Homo sapiens: one gene and its partners. The protein of the gene in region 2 interacts with the protein of the main gene of each other region in a pairwise test. Each region holds a gene or a part of one and is shown on either strand. Other genes may lie near its edges.

The links. Proteins that work in one complex are often made in the same cells at the same time.
Region 1: the proteins of FCHSD2 (region 2) and ITSN2 interact in a two-hybrid assay, tested with the Homo sapiens proteins (one large-scale study listed by BioGRID).
Region 3: the proteins of FCHSD2 (region 2) and DAPP1 interact in a two-hybrid assay, tested with the Homo sapiens proteins (one large-scale study listed by BioGRID and IntAct).
Region 4: the proteins of FCHSD2 (region 2) and ANKS1A interact in a two-hybrid assay, tested with the Homo sapiens proteins (one large-scale study listed by BioGRID).

Annotation. Positions count from the first base shown.
Region 1 is NC_000002.12:24,311,261-24,315,536, reverse strand, and holds part of ITSN2 (intersectin-2), read left to right. Parts: intron 1-312; coding exon 313-405; intron 406-2,013; coding exon 2,014-2,077; intron 2,078-3,161; coding exon 3,162-3,325; intron 3,326-4,276.
Region 2 is NC_000011.10:72,841,819-72,846,872, reverse strand, and holds part of FCHSD2 (F-BAR and double SH3 domains protein 2), read left to right. Parts: intron 1-3,132; exon of another isoform or gene 3,133-3,340; coding exon 3,341-3,424; exon of another isoform or gene 3,425-3,544; coding exon 3,545-3,722; exon of another isoform or gene 3,723-4,031; coding exon 4,032-4,252; coding exon of another isoform or gene 4,253-4,256; intron 4,257-5,054. UniProt on the Homo sapiens protein: Adapter protein that plays a role in endocytosis via clathrin-coated pits. Contributes to the internalization of cell surface receptors, such as integrin ITGB1 and transferrin receptor.
Region 3 is NC_000004.12:99,851,327-99,855,602, forward strand, and holds part of DAPP1 (dual adapter for phosphotyrosine and 3-phosphotyrosine and 3-phosphoinositide), read left to right. Parts: intron 1-1,891; coding exon 1,892-2,022; intron 2,023-4,276. UniProt on the Homo sapiens protein: May act as a B-cell-associated adapter that regulates B-cell antigen receptor (BCR)-signaling downstream of PI3K.
Region 4 is NC_000006.12:35,081,255-35,085,530, forward strand, and holds part of ANKS1A (ankyrin repeat and SAM domain-containing protein 1A), read left to right. Parts: intron 1-1,436; coding exon 1,437-1,562; intron 1,563-1,900; coding exon 1,901-1,972; intron 1,973-2,162; coding exon 2,163-2,249; intron 2,250-2,863; coding exon of another isoform or gene 2,864-2,866; coding exon 2,867-3,004; intron 3,005-4,276. UniProt on the Homo sapiens protein: Regulator of different signaling pathways. Regulates EPHA8 receptor tyrosine kinase signaling to control cell migration and neurite retraction.

The DNA of each region.
Region 1 (4,276 bases), on a different chromosome or scaffold from region 2:
TACTGTTGTTTTCTAGAGCATGAATTCCTTGAGGGTGGGAATATTTTCTTCATCTTTTTATTGCCAGTATTTAGCTTGATGCCCATTTCCAGTGAGTGTGATATAGCACTTGTTCAATAGACGTTAATTGAGCCAATGAGTGAAAAGCCTTAGGGCTGTGCTATGTATGGTTATGATAGAGCTCTACTCTTTGTGTCACTCAAATATTAAATACTGTCATACAATGAACACTTGTGATTTCTATTTACATTTTAGAATTGTATTTTAAGCATTCTCATGTATACACTATAGTTTCTTCCACTTATGTTTCAGGAGGGCCAAACATGTGGGCTATTACCTCTGAAGAACGTACTAAGCATGACAGGCAGTTTGATAACCTCAAACCTTCAGGAGGTTACATAACAGGTTTGTATTTATAATTAGTTTTATTAGTGAATTATGGTCCTTATGTGATATCTAAGAATTAGTTTTAATTTGACTGCCATCAAATTTGTGTTAATAAACGATAAAATTCATATCAATCAGAATTCTAGAAATTAAAGAAATGCTAACTTTATTTTTCCTGGAACTGTCTTAATTTGTTGTTTTAAATTTGGGATATGGAAGATTTTTCCTGAATCCTAAATGATAGTCAAGAATTTCTGTGTAATTGTCTGGTTTCACATTTTAACATTATATCTAGAAAGTTTTCAGTTTATTTCTTAGATTCATTTCATGGAAAATCTAGACTTTTTTTTTCTGGAATCTGTTTTCCTAATGCTAGCCCTCTGTCTTTGAGGCTACACCAAGCACTGATTGTTGATGCTAGCCCTTGTTTTGCAGAAAGACCACCAGAGCCAAAATGGGATTAATTTAGGTGTGCCTTTGAAATTTTTTTCTATTAATTAAACTTTTTTCTGTGCCAAAGTAGCTTAGTGCTTTACATACAATAATAGTAACTATGAGAACAATGATATTTATTGAATTTTTACTATATACCAGATGCTATGCTAAGTGCATTATTTTATTTAACCTTTACAACAACCCTGTAAAGTAGGCACTGTTGTTGTCTATATTTACAAATAGTGAAACTGAGACTAAGAGACGTTATGTAACTGCCTAAGGTTACAAAGATGGTTAGTGTTAATCTGGGCTTTGAAACCATTTGGGCTGATTTTGGAATCCATCTACTTAACCATGTTATTTGTACTGCTATGATAGTAATTACCTTACCTGGTATCAGGATTTGATTACCCTGCTTACAGGTTAATAACTTTGTCCATTACGGGTGGAAGACCCAAGATTCCTGAGTCAGAGACAAAGAACCTTATGACTAACAGCATAACTAGCAAAATGAGCATTGGCATCTATCTTTCTGTTTCCTTTAGTGTTCCCTAAGTCCCACAGAGACAATGCAGAGAGCCCAGGAGAATAGTACACATGCTATGATTGTGTTACAGGAGAGGAACACTGAATTTGGGGAACCCACCCTTTTGTAGCAAGCAGTAAAGCAAGTTTGTCCCTTGTCTCAGTGGGAAACGTTACCGGATTCGTTAAGATTGCTCATTACAAACCCAATTCTGAGAAGTGACCCAGGCAGAGAGCAATTAGGGTCTTACATTATTGGTATACAGAGCAAGACACATAGGAGTGTGAAGAAACTCATGGAGGACTCTCTCTCCTAACACCTGGTACTTTTTATATTGAAACTCTTTTAGGGAATAGTGTTTTTAAATATAAATTTTACTAAGTGGAAGTATTTTTAAGGAAGACCCCAATTGTGGAAAAACTGAGATGAATCATCTTTCATCACTGATTAATATACAATAGAAGTGCAGATGTGACTTTTGTTTTAAAATATCTGTCTTATTAAAGTTATGTAAATAATTTTTATGTGTTTCTATTTCACTTATTCTTTAATGATTGGTATTAAAATTATAATAAATCATTAACATATACCCATTATTATTCAGAAGCATTGGAATAATTTCATTTACTAATGTGCTGCTTGGGTTTTGTTTTTATTACCTCCAGGTGATCAAGCACGTAATTTTTTCCTACAATCAGGTCTGCCGGCCCCTGTTTTAGCTGAAATATGGTAAAGTGTTTTGTAGATGAACCTAATTTTCTGATAGTATTTTGTTTTTTTGTAATATAGTGTTAACATAAAATTGTTTTTAGTTGCATTCTATTGGTTATTAAGAATATTTCTGCCAGCACTTTGGGAGTCTGAGGTAGGAGGATTGCTTGAGGCCAGGCTGGGCAACATAGTGAGAACCCTGTCTCTACAGAAAATTAAAAAAAAAATTAGCTGGGTGTGGTGGCCACACCTCTAGTCCCAGCTACTCAGGGAGGCCAAGATGGAAGGATTGCTTGAGCCCAGGAATTCAGTGCTGCAGTGAACTATGATTGTGTCACTGCACCCTAGCCTGGATGACAGAATGAGACTCTCTTTAGAAAAAAAAAAAAAAAAAAGGTATTTCTTCAGTTTTTTGGAAAATAAATTTTATTGAGCAAATTATTGAAAATAATTCAGGTTTAGTTCTCTAGGACAAATTTCTAATTTCATTAGAATTTTCTAAGGAAAGATATATACATTATCATTGAGAAAAATTTCCTTATAATTTGGCAGAATCTCAAAATCCTCTTTCTGTTATTTTGTAGTTTCATTTATTTCATAATCTATAAACCCCAAATTAGTCCTCGCTTCCCCTGCTCCTTCTTTAAAGAAACTATTCTCTATAATATCTGTTTTTTTAAAAACGTTTACAATAAGTAACAACCCCTGTCCCATCTTTCCACTTGGAATATTCTCATGCCTGGTAGAGTACGAGGCACATAGCAAGTATTCAGTAAATATTTGGACAGATGAATAAATTAAATTTAGAAGTATTATAATCTTGAATTTTTTTCTACCTAAACTGGTGGAATTCAGCCCAAAGGTCTCTAGATTCTGTTTTGACAGGCAGTGTTTTATTAGTTATTATCTCTGGTCAGTATTTCTTAAAGTGTAGGTTTTATCTTTTTGTTATTATATATTTTACATGTTAGATATTTTAAATTTAGTGATGATGTACACGTGAATGCCATATCATCATTTTTACTTTGTCAATCCCCAAAATAACGTTAGTTTTCCCACCACCACACCACATAGCAATCTACCTACCTCATGCTCCTTTTAGGGCTTTATCAGACCTAAACAAGGATGGGAAGATGGATCAGCAAGAGTTCTCCATAGCTATGAAACTCATCAAACTGAAGCTTCAAGGCCAACAGTTGCCTGTGGTTCTCCCTCCTATTATGAAGCAACCCCCTATGTTTTCTCCATTAATTTCTGCTCGTTTTGGTAAGTATGTATTAATTTAAATACCTGTATTTGCTACTTAAACTTTATCCCTAGGCATATTTGAGTATTAGAAAAGGATTTGTTAGCACAAAATGACAGTCCCCAGATTCCAAGTTAATTTTCATGTTAGAGATAATAAATATTAAATTCACTGTCACAGGTAGGGGATCCATGTGTTCTGGTTTTCTAGGGACAGTTCTGATTTATGCCTTTTGTCCTGGCATCTGGTCCAGTTAGTGTCTCCTTTTACAACTCCTAGTTGCGTGATGAATTATATGGTCTCCCTAGGTATAGCCAATCCCAAATACTATTCTTAGTTTCCTCTCTCTCTATATATATGTGAGTAATACAGAAAAAATTTTGAGCAGTTTTAAACTCACTTGAAATGGTTCGATTTGGGAGATAATTTAAAATTTTATGTAAGTTGAATTTTTTTAAAGGTTAATTAGCCAGCTAAATTTAGGGCCAAAAGTTGCAGACTTTGGGCTAATAAGTTCACGTATTCATCAGCGATAACCGGTTGGTATGTTTTCTGTTAATTTTGATCAGGCAATTTCTTATAATTATATGTGAGAAGCACTCATTTTGAATGGAACATTCAATTAGGTATGTCTATGTATCTGAAACATGTTCCTTCACTACAGATCTTAGAATATAGAATTCTAGAGCTGGTTATAGGGGTGTGTGCCTGTAGTTCTGGCTGCTTGGGAGGCTATGGGTAGGATTGCTTGAGTCCAGGAGTTTGAGGTTGTACTGTGCTATGATCGCACCTGTGAATAGCCACTTCATTCTAGTCGGGGCAACATAGTGAGACCCCCATCTCAAACAAACAACAGACTCCACAAAATTATTTCACTATTTTAGTGAATTCTAAAGATAAATACTAAATCATTGTGTGACCATATTTATAAGTATTCTGCAGTTAATAAATGAATAAAAGTCATCACTTTG
Region 2 (5,054 bases):
CCCTTATGTCCTAATATTAAATTAAAAGGTAGGATACCAAATTGTATGTACCGTAAGAGCTCAATTATGCATATTTTCCAGCTTTTCTACGATGAACATGTATGATATAATCAGGAAAAACATATTGTTTTAAAAGAAATACAGGAAATTTGGAGAGATACTGGTGGAAACGGAGCTCTGGTTGTCACTGGATACTAGGACTTAAGGAGACAGTATGAGAGTATGTGTGTATTTAATAACCATTTACTGCTCACTGTCTTTAGTTGGGGTAAGTGAGAAGAAATGTAGTCCCTAATTATTTCTAGTAGGAAGCTCACAAGGACAAACTCATTAGAGCATCATGGTAGTCAGTGTTATGGGGACGCTCAGAGAGCCTTTTAAGAACAAAATGGGGGCTGGGCACGGTAGCTCACGCCTGTAATCCCAGCACGTTGCGGGGCCAAGGCGGGCGAATCGCGAGGTCAGGAGTTCGAGACCAGCCTGACCAACATGGTGAAACCCCGTCTCTACTAAAAATACAAAAAATTAGCCAGGCATGGTGGTGTGCACCTGTAATCCCAGCTACTTGGGAGGCTGAGGCAGGAGAATTTCTTGAACCTGGGAGGCAGAGGTTGCAGTGAGCCGAGATGGCACCACTGCACTCCAGCCTGGGCAACACTGTGAGACTCCGTCTCAAAAAAAAAAAAAAAAAGAGCAAAAGGAGGAGCAGCTTACTCATCATGAGTAGTCTGGGAAAACATATGCGCTCAGTCTCAAGTCAAAAGTAATCGTAACTACTTATCTATCTATCTATCTATCTATCTATCTATCTATCTATCTATTTATTTGTAATCCCTTCAATAACCCTATGAGGAAGATATTATCAAACACCCCATTCATTCAACAAATAGTGCTTGAGCACCTTCCATGTATCAGTGCTGTGGGCTTTTCTAGGCTCTGGGATATAGCATTGATCAAAACAGACAAAAATCTTTGCCCTCATTGAGCTTATATTCTAGTACGAAAAAAGAAAACTGAGGTTCAAAGGTATCTTACAGTCACTTGCCCATAAAAATATACTGAAGCTGGACTTAAACCCACAGTAATCTAAGTCTGCTCATCAGATAGGAAAGAGGGAACAGAGCCTGATGGACGGAAGAACACCTATAAAAGCACAGAGGCAAGGAAGAACATGGTATGCTCAGAGAATAGAAATAGTGTGCAGGGGCCAAAGCGTCAAGAGGCCCACAGGGACCAAACTCTGCAGGGTCTTGATAGCCATGCAAAGAACTTGACCTTGTTAGGTGGAAGAATTGGTCATCACTGCTTTAGGATGGGATGATCAAGCTAGTGTCTGCTTACATTGGACAACTAGTGCTGCAGTGTTGAAAAACTTGCATGGACCTCCATGGTTTTTGTTTGTTTGTTGTTGTTTTTTTTTTTTTTTTTTTTTTTTGAGACAGGGTCTTGCTCTGTCACCCAGGCTGGAGTGCAGTGGTGTGATCTCGGCTCACTGCAACCTCTGCCTCCCTGCAACCTCTGCCTCCCTGATTCAAGTGATCCTCCCACCTCAGCCTCCCAAGTAGCTGGGATTACAGGCACGTGCCACCACACCCACCAATTTTTTGTATTTTTCATAGAGACAGGGTTTCGCCATGTTGCCCAGGCCGGTCTCAAACTGCTGGCCTCAAGTGATCCACCCACCTTGGCCTCCCAAAGTGCTGGGATTACAGACGTGAGCCACCTCACTCAGCCTCTCCATAGCTTTTTATAAGGGCAGCAGTTTATTTAAAAGTGTACTACCTCCCTGGTTTGCTGTCACATACATTAACGTCTGGTCGTGTTGATACTTTTTAGGTCTTGCCATGAAAAACATTTTTATTACAAAAATGCCTTTTGCTGGCATATTCAAGGCATAGTGTGGTTTCAGAGTAGTGAAGGAATTCCATTGGAAAAGCTATCAAGGGTAAATGAGTGGGGTTTTTTCCTCAATATTATTTTTCTGTCTCAGGGAGCTATGGCAACATCCAGAATCTGGATTTTGATGAAATGTTTTAATGTTCATAAAATGGGAAATTGATCTTGAAAATGACCCCTTTTTTGCCTTATTTTTGTTTGTGTAACTTGGAGTTAATTTTACATTTTGAGATTGTGAGATTTTAAAAACTTTATGGTTTTAGGTGATGGTTTTAACCCATCTTGGGACTTGGGGAAAGCTTTTAAGACTGTTTTCTAGAGAGCCAGAAGCCAGCAGGCCCCTGTCTATTACACATGACAGGCAAGACTGTTAGGAAGCAAAGCCACACGGACTTTCCAGCCCCTCTGTGGAGCCTCAGAGCGTTTACAGATTTGGCAGTCTCAAGGGCAACATGTGGGTGGCTGATGCTGGTGGATTGCTGCTGTCAGGGATAATAAAACCATTATGGTTAGCAGCTTGTACGGTAGCACGCAAATGGATCAGCTCAGTCTCCACACAGTTAAGTTGGAGCATAAGAAATCCAAACCATGACTGATCTCAATCATTTCCTTTCCTACAATTTTTTTCTTTTGGCCACTGCTTTACAGTGATTCCAGATCAATCCTAGGCACTGCACCCACTATCATCAAATTCACGTACATAGTTCTTTGCATTTTCACTGCATGCTTGTCCATGGGAGCCCTCTGGTAGCAGTTCCAATTCAGTGCCTTCTCGTTTGCCTTTGCTTCCCAAATCATCACAGTTCTGTGCTTATCCATCCCACATTGACTCACATCCTCCAGAAAATGGCAGGATTGTCATTTCAAAGAAATGGAGGCATCAAGTTGAATAACTTGATACAGAAGCTGGAGTTGGAACCCAGGTCCTCTACTTCCAGGAAGTGCTCTCTTTTTTTGTTTGTTTTTTTAGAGACAGGGTCTCGCTCTGTTGCCCAGGCTGGAGTGCAGTGGCTCACTCATGGCTCACTGCAGCCTCAACCTCCCAGGCTCAAGCGATCCTCCCACCTCAGCCTCCCAAGTAGTTGGGACTACAGGCATGTTCCACCATGCCTGACTAATTTTATTTATTTATTTACTTATTTATTTATTTATTGGTAGAGATGGGGGTCTCGCTGTGTTGCCCAGGCTTACATGTTCTGTTCATTGAACGTCATTGCCTCTTGAGGATTCAGTTTCTTGAGTTTTTGTTATGGTTTTATTCTGTTTAGTTTTTTAAAGTAAAACTTCACCTCATTATGAAAGTTTTACAGCATTTAAATTTTTATGTTCAACATGTTTCTCAAAATCATTTCAATATTTTGATCCCCAGTTTTTGTCATGATCAGCTCACATCTGCTCCTTATCTAACCTTTTTAATTTTGTCCATGACCATCCTACACTGCAGGCTTCTCAACCAGATGAGTTGACCATTGAGGAACATGAGGTGTTAGAAGTGATTGAAGATGGAGATATGGAAGACTGGGTAAAGGTATATTCCTTTGCTCATATCGCCCTTTCTTGTGACATTTTTAGGAGTTTGTTTTGGTCTTTGTTGTGCCCTGTCTAAATTGTGTGTGTAAACTTGTTTTGTCACATGTCTTTTACCCAGGCTCGAAATAAAGTTGGCCAAGTGGGTTATGTGCCAGAAAAGTACCTACAGTTTCCCACCTCGAACAGCCTCCTGAGCATGCTGCAGTCCCTGGCCGCTTTGGACAGTCGGTCACACACGTCCAGCAATTCCACGGAAGCAGAACTCGTTTCAGGCAGCCTCAACGGAGATGCCAGTGGTAAAGACTGAAACAAGGCACTCTTTATTTGGTCACGTTTGACCTAAACTGTATTGCCCTGGAGTAAGCCTTCAGTAGGATAAAAAGCACAACTTTCCTCCTGTCCTATAATATGCTTTTCTTTATATGGTCACGTTTGTCCTGCACAGTAGAACCCTAAAGTTAATCATTCATCAGTGAGTAAAAAAATTACAACTTTAATCCTATTCTGTATGATGCTCTTTTAGTTGTCATGTGAGCATAGGGGTGGTTGCAAAAGCAACCGGCTGTTAATTATCTTACCAGATTTGTTTTTCTCTTGCTCCCTAGTATGTTTTGTGAAAGCACTTTATGATTATGAGGGCCAGACAGATGATGAGTTATCTTTTCCTGAGGGAGCAATAATCCGTATCTTGAACAAAGAAAACCAAGATGATGATGGCTTCTGGGAAGGGGAATTCAATGGGCGTATTGGAGTTTTCCCATCGGTGCTAGTGGAAGAACTTTCAGCCTCAGAAAATGGTGACACTCCATGGATGAGAGAGATTCAGGTACCTGAGAGGGGAGACAGTTGAATTAAAAGATGTTTAAAGAAAATTGCTCCCAAAGGGTCTGTGGATCCACACAAAAGTGGGCTGCAGTCTCTGCCTTACCCTCACCGGTCCTTGGTTGCCAGTGTCTGCACAACTGCATTTGGGAAACCAGAGACTTGTCAGTCAGTCCCTTGTGGAATGTGGCCATCCTCCCACACCTCCATCTTCCCACATTCTCTCTCTTCCTTGAATTGGTTAACCAAAATGCCAAATTATATGTGACATACCAAAGATCGTTTTGGTGGAGAGAAAGAAACAAACCGAAGAGGGAAGGCGTTGCTCTGTGGTTAATTTACGTAGTAAAACTCTTAGCTGGCTCTCTCTCTCCCTCACTGTCAGAGCCTCCTTGCCTAGTCCAGGTCCTGCCAGTCTATTTCAGAGAATTAATGAGCCTGCCAGAGCCCCTAATCCCCACTCAAGTGACCCTAGACTTAGTTCATCACAGGGAAACAGCCTTTAAAGGAACCTCTAATTCAGTCAGAGTTTAGTTTGTCCCCTCAGGGATCTATCACTGCAGGCCAGACAGGTAGAGGAAGAAGGAACGTGTTTGCCGATCTTGTTTGCGTGGTGATTGTGACCCCTTAGCCTAACATGCACAAAACCTGGGGAAGTCAGAAATTCAGCAAAGTATTTTATCTTCACCCCAAAAAATCCAACTTGTTCCTTTTGTTGTTGTTGTTCTTTGCTAAGTTTACTGAATTGACTAATTTGGTACATTTTCAATAGAACCCTAGAGAGTAGCTTCACTTGATAACTGTTT
Region 3 (4,276 bases), on a different chromosome or scaffold from region 2:
ATGCCAATGAGAGACAGAAAGAGGAAGGGCCAGAGGCTTTCATTCTTCTCTGAGGTCGAGATCAGACACCCTCTTCTGGCTTTTCTCAACAGCTTTTCATTTTACAGCAGCACCTTATCTGGGCCCAAGTATCAAAAGCCACAGTTCTGTTTTTGCAGTCAGACATTGTATGTATTCAAGTATCATAGACAGGTTTTGTTTTGTGTAGTTTTTTTTTTTTTTTTTTTTTTTTGAGACAGAGTCTCACTCTGTCACTCAGGCTGGAGTGCAGTGGTGCGATCTCGGCTCACCGCAACCCCCGCCTCCCGGGTTCAAGCAATTTCCCTGCCTCAGCCTCCCGAGTAGCTGAGACTACAGGTGCCTGCCACCACGCTCGGCTAATTTATTTTTGTTTTTATTTTGTATTTTAGTAGAGATGGGGTTTCACTATGTTGGCCAGGATGCTCTCGATCTCCTGACCTCATGATCCACCCACCTCAGCCTTCCAAAGTGCTGGGATTACAGATGTGAGCCACTGTGCCCGGCCTGTTTTGTGTAGATTTATCATTAACATTAGGGTGTTTTTTAACCACAGAGGAGACATTTTTCTTTTTCATTTTCTCACTCTTACTCTAATTCAGGTTCTATACTCTCCAGATCTTTCAAATCTTTTCAAAGACGCCCTTCCTGATGACCCTTGTAAAATATCACCCTCTCCCAACCCTACCTTTTCTATTCTCTATCCCTTTACCATGCCCTATTCATTTTTTCCATAACACTTCTCACACATAAAATATTTTTTAAATTTTTTTTCTGTCTCCTCTACCTAGAACATAAGCTCGATAAGAGCATTTAAACTCCTTTGTGTGCTATTGCATTCCCAGTACCTAGACAAGTGCCTGGCAGAGTGCAAAGCTCTGTAAATATTCGTTGAATGAATTGCTGAATTCTTTACATCTCTTCCATGTCTGGTACAATCTTAGGCTTGCTATAGAAAAGACCCTAGTAAAATTAAAAGCAAGAAACCATAGCAAGAAGAAAAAAAATCCCCTTAAGTTGCCTCTTTTTGTAGTTAGTTTCTAGTTTCTGATTGACTGATTGATTGAGGGAAGGATTTCAAGAAGGAAATGTCAGAAACATAGACTCAGAACTGCTCTGAGCCCTTGGAACAAAGTTCCCCAGCCCCCCATGCCTGGACCCCCTGGGCTGAGCCCTTTTTCTGCCTGGAGGCTCCCCTCTCCAGATGGAAGGGGAAGGAGGCAATCACTTGTGAGCACCAGCTTGTTCAGGTCATGTTCACTTAGTAATGCAAAGACTTTGCTTGGTTACTTTCATTAATTGGGTAGTATCAGAGAGTAGGGAGAATGCTCACTTTTTTGAAATCCACTAATTTGTTACACGTTTATTCGGAAACTGATTGATAGGAAATAAGGGCAATGGAATGGATCTTCCTCTACCCTAGTGCTTTTGTTTAGTCTTGTTCTCATGGCTTTCATAAAGCCTTCCTGGAAAACTTCCAGTTACTACTTAAGATCTAAATCAAATGTCACCTCCTTTATGAAAGCTGTCCTGAATCCTTTCATGGAAAGGTTCTTCAAGCAGTCTGGGGATGATTATCATGCTTTGCTCACACGGCTGCCATTGGTCTCATCACCCTGTTCATTTAAACGACCATATCTGTTACCAGTTCTGAGCACCAGGAGGCCAAGGAACATCTCCATCATGCTTTATATCTCAGTGTCCAGCTTAAGTGCCTTATACCTAATTGGTATTTGATAACTGTTGAGATAATGAGCGAGGGAATACATGAAAAAAACAAAAGACTTTCCAATCCAGCCACAGTTATCCAGTTAGCATTTGGACCTTCCTTCTGGGAACACTGTTCGATTATATATTTTTCATCTTCATTCAGGCACTCTGATGGTTCTAAAACATCCCTACCCAAGAAAAGTGGAAGAACCCTCCATTTATGAATCTGTCCGGGTTCACACAGCAATGCAGACAGGAAGAACAGAAGATGACCTTGTGCCCACAGCACCTTCTGTAAGTGACCTTCAACGTGACCACAAGCTCTCTCCCTGTCTAAAATCAATCAAGTTCAATAAAAGTTAATAAGAGTGTATTTGTTCACATAAAAATTCTAGCTTGGAATATAAAACTTGGAAAGGAATGTGAGATTTGAAGCCTATGACTCAGTTCATCTGGTCCTGGGTAGATCATAAAAATTACAATGCAGCCAGACATGGTGGTTCATGCCTGTAATCCCAACATTTTGGGAGGCCAAGGTAAGAGAATTGCTTGAGCCCAGGAGTTGGAGACCAGCCTGGGCAACATAAACATCTCTACAACAAACTTTAAAAAATATTAGCTGGGCATGGTGGCATGCACCTGTAGTCCCAGCTACTCAGGAGGCTAAGGTGGAAGGATTACTTGAGTCAAGGAGGTTGAGGCTGCAGTGAGCTGTGATTGTGCCACTGCACTCCAGTCTGGGTTACAGAGTGAGACCTTGTCTCAAAACGAACAAATGAAAGCAATGCAATAGTAATAGGATTTTAAATACTTCGAAAATGGAACTTAAATCTCTGTCCTTAGTTAACCAAACAACTTCAAAGTAGAATGGAAAAGAGAAGTTTGCATTCACATAGTTTTCTAAACTGTTTTCTCCTACAATTTTCTTATATTAAGAAAATATATTTTTTTAAATATTTCAACTATCTATGGAAGACAAATATTCTCCACCTTTACTATAAAAACTCAGGGTATTATTTTTTCTAGCTTTTTTTCCTTTACTGACTGAAGTTTACAGACAGAAAACACTTGTGCTTCTTTGCAACGTGAGCCATTGTTCAATTTCAGTGCAATTGGAGCACTCATTGTTTGTCCAAGAGTCCATTTATGTTTGTTCTGTGAACTGTGACTCTGCAGAGGTTCCTCTCCAACACCCTTTTCCCTTCATTATTCTGAAGGCCCTTCTATTTGTTGTCTCTTCCTTGTTTGCTGAATACTCCTGGTATAAGAAACCTCTATTTGGGCAGATGATAAAGAAGATAATACCCAAATAAATATCAAGAACTAATTCTGGATAGTAATCATGACACTTGAAAAATAATCACTTGAAGATATTCAGCTACAAATTATATTAAAATAAGTGTAACTTTCTATATCTGCAGTACTTTTCTCTACCCTTGACCAGAGAGATCTTTCTTAAAAAGAAGGCTTGCCACATGACCTCTGCTTTACATCCTTTGGTGATGCCTTTTGTGTTCATGGCCCACCTGGACCCTGCTTGCCTCTCTGTCTTCATCTCATGCTACTCCCACACTCACACTGTGAAACCTGTCTCTCTCAACATTGTGCTCTTTCTCCTCTCCCTACATCTGAAATGCTGCCAACACCATTGCTATCTACTCATCCCTCAAGACTGGTATCACGGATCATTATCTTCCAGGAAGCCTTTCTTCACCCCCACTAGCTTCTTTTACAATGCTCCTCTTCTGTGCTCCAGAGCACCCTCTGTTTGCCTTTATTCTAAAATTACCATGCTGTGGGCTAATTACCTTCACATCTCTCTGCCCTCCCCACCAGCCAGAAACATCTAAGTACATGAATCATTGCTTGTCCTTGCAGCTTTACAGCCTAGCCTGGCTCATGGCACATCTTACATATTCATTGCAGTGCTACATCTCCTCAGAAATAAAAATCCTGAAAATTGACTGAGAAAGTTATTTTGGCTTTGTTAGAAGTGGGGGAGAAGGCATCAAGAACTCAGAACTTGAGAAATTTAGGAGTGCAAGACAATAAATAGTCCAAAGGCAGAAAAGACCAAAGAACAAATCAAGATCTACTCTGCAACCAATTCTTGTTTTCCAGTTGTCCAGTCCCTTCATAATTTCCTCTTTACCCACCCTTACCCTTAATATAGATCACCAGTCACTTCAACATCTCTTTCATTTGCCCTGTTAGTTTAACTTCACATTCTCCTCTGCTACACTTCCCCTAAAGATCTCCACTCAAGGTCAAACAAACCATGTCCTATTAAGCGTGTTCTTTATCGGCAATAAAATGCAGATAATACCTAATTTGTGAGATTGGTGTGAGCAGAAGATATAGTATCCTTATGCAGAAATAAACCTCTTTAAAGCACATTCTGGAAACCTTGTTACTTACCTTCTTTTCTCACTCCAGCTATCAGATGGATTCACCTCTTTTAAAATGGAGTTTTTAAAATAGTGGTGAGTGATTGGTTGACAATGACTTGAACTCACACTATATAATGACAAGCTTATGAAGTTGATTG
Region 4 (4,276 bases), on a different chromosome or scaffold from region 2:
CAGTTGGGCTGGCACCAGAGTCAGGAGGCACTAGCCTGCTCTGCTCGCCCACACCCAGCCGCCTTGCGTAAGGCCCACCCAGCACCCATGGTGCCGAGCTCGGGCCGCACAACTCACTTTAGCTGTCAGCTGCTGGGGCCACTCCTGTGTCCTGTACTTCCCTCCCTCAGGGGTTCAGATCCCCTGTCCGCTCTTTCTCTGTGGCCTCTTGCGTCCTGCACTGCCTCCCCTGCTGGCCCCAGAGCCCTCTGTGCTCTCCTGGCCTCTGAGCTCCTTCTTGGCCCCTTCCTTCTCTGCTTACCCACGTTGTTCCCCAGAACTGCTTTCCCTGCAGCTTCACCTCGGCAGCATTCTCTTCCTCCTGCTCAGCAAAACCACAGCCAGACCAGATTCTGTTCTTCCTGTTCTCTGCCTGCAGCCCCGTGGGGGGCACCGCTGGAGACGCCTCCTCCGCTCCCGGTGCCCGCTCCAGCCCTGGCGGAGGTGGGCCCGTCTCACACTCCTGGCTCACCTTCTCAGGGCATCATTTCCAGGGGTCCTGGATTTACTCAGGACCTGCCTGTCCTGCCTCCCTCCTTGTACGGACCTTGGCTTTGTCCTTTGTCCTCTTCTTGGCCTGTCAGACACAGGATTAGCAGGTGTCCCTCAGGCCCCTCCGGGTGAACTTCAGCTTCACCCCTGCTTGTTTCTCTGACTCTCACTTCTCACTTCTGGCTCTGGGGACTTCCTTTCCCTTTCTACAAGCACAGCCATGAGTTTTAAAGGATTTTTAAACACATTGTCCAGCAATTCCGGTTGCTGTTGAGAGGCTCTGCGCACTGCTGGGAAGGGAGGGCCTCCGTGTTTCCTGAATCTTTTCCTTCCTCTCCATTCCTTCCACCAGTGCCCTGGACAGGGACCCATGATCTCTCACCTGGACCGCAGTGGCCTCCCCCACCCCCTAGCTGCTGCCAGAAGGATCCATTTGGAATGCATTCCTAGGCACGGGCGGGTGCTTCACTGGCTTCCCCGCTGTGAAGATCCCTCCCAGGCCCTGGGCTGGGTCCCAAGGCGTCCCAGGGTCTCGTGGGCGCTGTTCTCTCCTTTGGTCTTTGTGCAGAACAGCCTGGCAGCCTGTGCCCCCCACACAGACTCTGCCATCTCCTCTCTGGTCATTTCCCATCTCCTTTGAGACTCATCTCGGACACCACAGAGACTGTCCTTCCCAAGCCCTGCTCTCAGGCGGTTTGGGTCCCTGCTGTGCCTCTGCTGTGGCTAGCACCTCCCCTCTCCCGCAGTGTGTTTGAATTGCTGGTCTGCCCCCTGCCATCTCCACTCGACCCTTGAACTTGCTAAGGTCACTGGCATCTTCACCCTTGAGTGTGCTGGAGCCAGGCAGCAAGCCCATGTGCTCCTCTGGAGCAAGGAGCAGGTGTCCAATTGCGTGTGTTTCGCAGGAGGAGCACCGTGAGGCCAAGCTGACCCTGCGGCCCCCGAGCCTGGCAGCCCCCTACGCCCCAGTGCAGAGTTGGCAACACCAGCCAGAGAAACTCATCTTCGAGTCCTGTGGTTATGAAGCCAATGTGAGTTGCTCCCACCCTCCCAGCAGGGCCGGCCTCCCTGCTCCTTCTCGGCCAGGCACCTGCGGCCAAGTCCCAGCAGGGACTCCACAAAGCCAGGCCCAGGGCTTTTGAGCTGTTCTCCACTCTCAGCCACTCTTGACAGCTAAGGCGAAGGGGTGGAGGCCTCTGGATCCTTTAGCTAGGGAGTTGAATGGAGGGTCTCTCCAGCTGGGGCAGGAGAGGGGGTGTTGTTATTGAGAGGGGTAACTACTTGATTGTGGGACAGTCCCAAATTGGTTGGGTCACCCCTGCATGGAAACGCAGGATTTCCTAAGCCTGGCCACTGCTCGCCCCCACAGTATCTGGGCTCCATGCTGATCAAAGATCTGCGAGGGACAGAATCCACGCAAGACGCCTGTGCCAAGATGCGGGTAGGGTGCCTGTGTGGGCTGGAGGGCGCTGTGGGACTGGCCAGCAGAAGGCAGCAATGGGGGCAGTAGCTGCAGTTGCCTGGGCCCTGCTGCACTATGTAAGGATGGGAAGGAAGCTGGGACCTGTGGAAGCCCAGGAGGCTTAGCCCTGAGAAGGGGCACTGACAGGGCCACCCCTTGTTTCCTGTAGAAATCTACGGAGCACATGAAGAAGATCCCCACCATCATCCTGTCCATCACATACAAAGGTGTCAAGTTCATCGATGCCTCCAACAAGGTGTGCTGCTTACAGGGACTCTTGGTGGGAGTGGGACCCACATCCCCGTCAGACCCACAGGGCTCCAGGGCAAGCAACCCGGCTGCCCTGTCTCATCTCTTATCTCCCTAGAGGGTCCCCAGTCCTCTTATTACTTCCCACTTTGCTAAGAGGCGTGTCTCTCATCTGCTGGCCTGGGTGCCTGCTGTCAGCCCCGTCCCCGCCCTAGTGATCACTGCTGTTAGCCTCGCCACCTGGGCTCCACTGGCCGCACACCTGCTCACAGGTGTGATTCCCTCCGTGAGCAAAGGACTTTCTCTGTGTGCCACCGTGTGGGATCCCACCTTCCTGACACCCTTCCCACTTTGCCCCCACCCTGGAAGGTGGGAGGGGCTGGGGAGAGCTTGTGGTTGGGTGTGAACATTTTACTGCCTTAGTTGTTGTGGTAAGGGGTGGAGACCCCAAACCAAAATCGGGGACCCCCACCCCCACCAATAAACAAAATGAGAAGATGAAGGGGGGTTTGCTTGATGCTCTAGGCTGGGACAGAGAACAGTGACAATGGTAACAGGCTGGGGCAGGGGGTGCCAGAGGCATGCCTGAGCCTGAGAATTCCAGAACACGGCTTTCCCCAGCAGAACGTCATTGCAGAGCACGAGATCCGGAACATTTCCTGTGCGGCCCAGGACCCGGAGGACCTCTGTACCTTTGCCTACATCACCAAGGACCTGCAGACCAGCCACCACTATTGCCATGTGTTCAGCACCGTGGATGTGGTGGGTGGGGTCCTGGGGCCGGGTGGGGCAGGCTTGGGTTGCAGCCCTGAGGCGTCCAGCCCCATTGCAGGGCACAGATGCGGCGCTGTCCTGGCCCCTGGCCAGTGCCTGGCAAATGTTTGGTTCATGAATGGAGCCCAGCAGCACTCAGGCCGGTCCCCTTTCACAGTGATGAGACTGACGCGCAGAGGGAACAGGGACTGGCCCAGGGCACTAGGGACAGGAGGTTCCAGCTTTTTTTTTTTTTTTTTAAGAGATGGAGTCTCACTATGTTGCCCAGGCTTGCCTTGCACTCCTGGGTTCAGGCAAGTTACCCACCTCAGCCTCCCACGTAACTGGATAATAGGCGTGAGCCACCGCCCCTGACTTTCCAGCTTTTTGGCGAGTGTTTTCTTAGGTCAGGCAAGGCCTTTGTTTCCCCCGGCTCCCTGCCCTAGGTCTCCAACCTCTGGCTGGGCCGCCTCCCAGAAATGCCCTCTACTTCCCTCTTAGGGGCAGTGGTGCCCTCTTTGGCAGATTTTCTTCCCTCAAATTCCTGCTGAGGCTCGGCTCTGGATGCCACTGGGCCGAGGAGAGTTCATTCTCACACAGCTGCCCACAGGGAGCAGACCAGAACTGACAGCCCACAGGCGGGGGTTCCCTCTAACCTGCAACAAAGCATGAGAGTGGCCCCAGGCTGCTTCCTCACCCCGGGAGGAAGTCAGAGGGGTCCAGGTCTCTGCCGCCCTCAGGGATAGCAGCTGCTTCCAGAATCTCTGTGGCTCCTGGAATACAGGCAGCTCTGGGCATCCCCACACTCCTGGGACCTCATCCACCCCAGTCCTCTGTTTGCTCTGGGCCAGTGAAGGTTAGGAGGAACCAGGCTTTGCTGCTTGCTGGCTGTGTGAGCTTGGAAACATCGCATCTGCCTGCTTCCTCATCTGTCTGGAGGGGATATAATGTGGCCCACCTCAGGGGCCACTGTGAGATGGATGAGGTGGTCCACACAGCACAGTCAGTGGCATTTACCTGTTGCTGACTTTTCCCACATACACTCAGTTCTGCTGTAACGCCACACATACGCTCCTAACAATCACTGTGCTGTGTAAAATCACACAAGGAAAACCACAGGGTTTATGGGGAAATGGAGTTAGGGGCACAGCACTCACAGACTTTGTCGGTGACACATTAAAAATAAAAGCACTAGCACCACTTACATTAAATGGTAAGAAATACCCAAGTACTGCTGCAGGCACGGCACCCTGCCTTGGAAAAGACCTGCCGTAGGCTTAC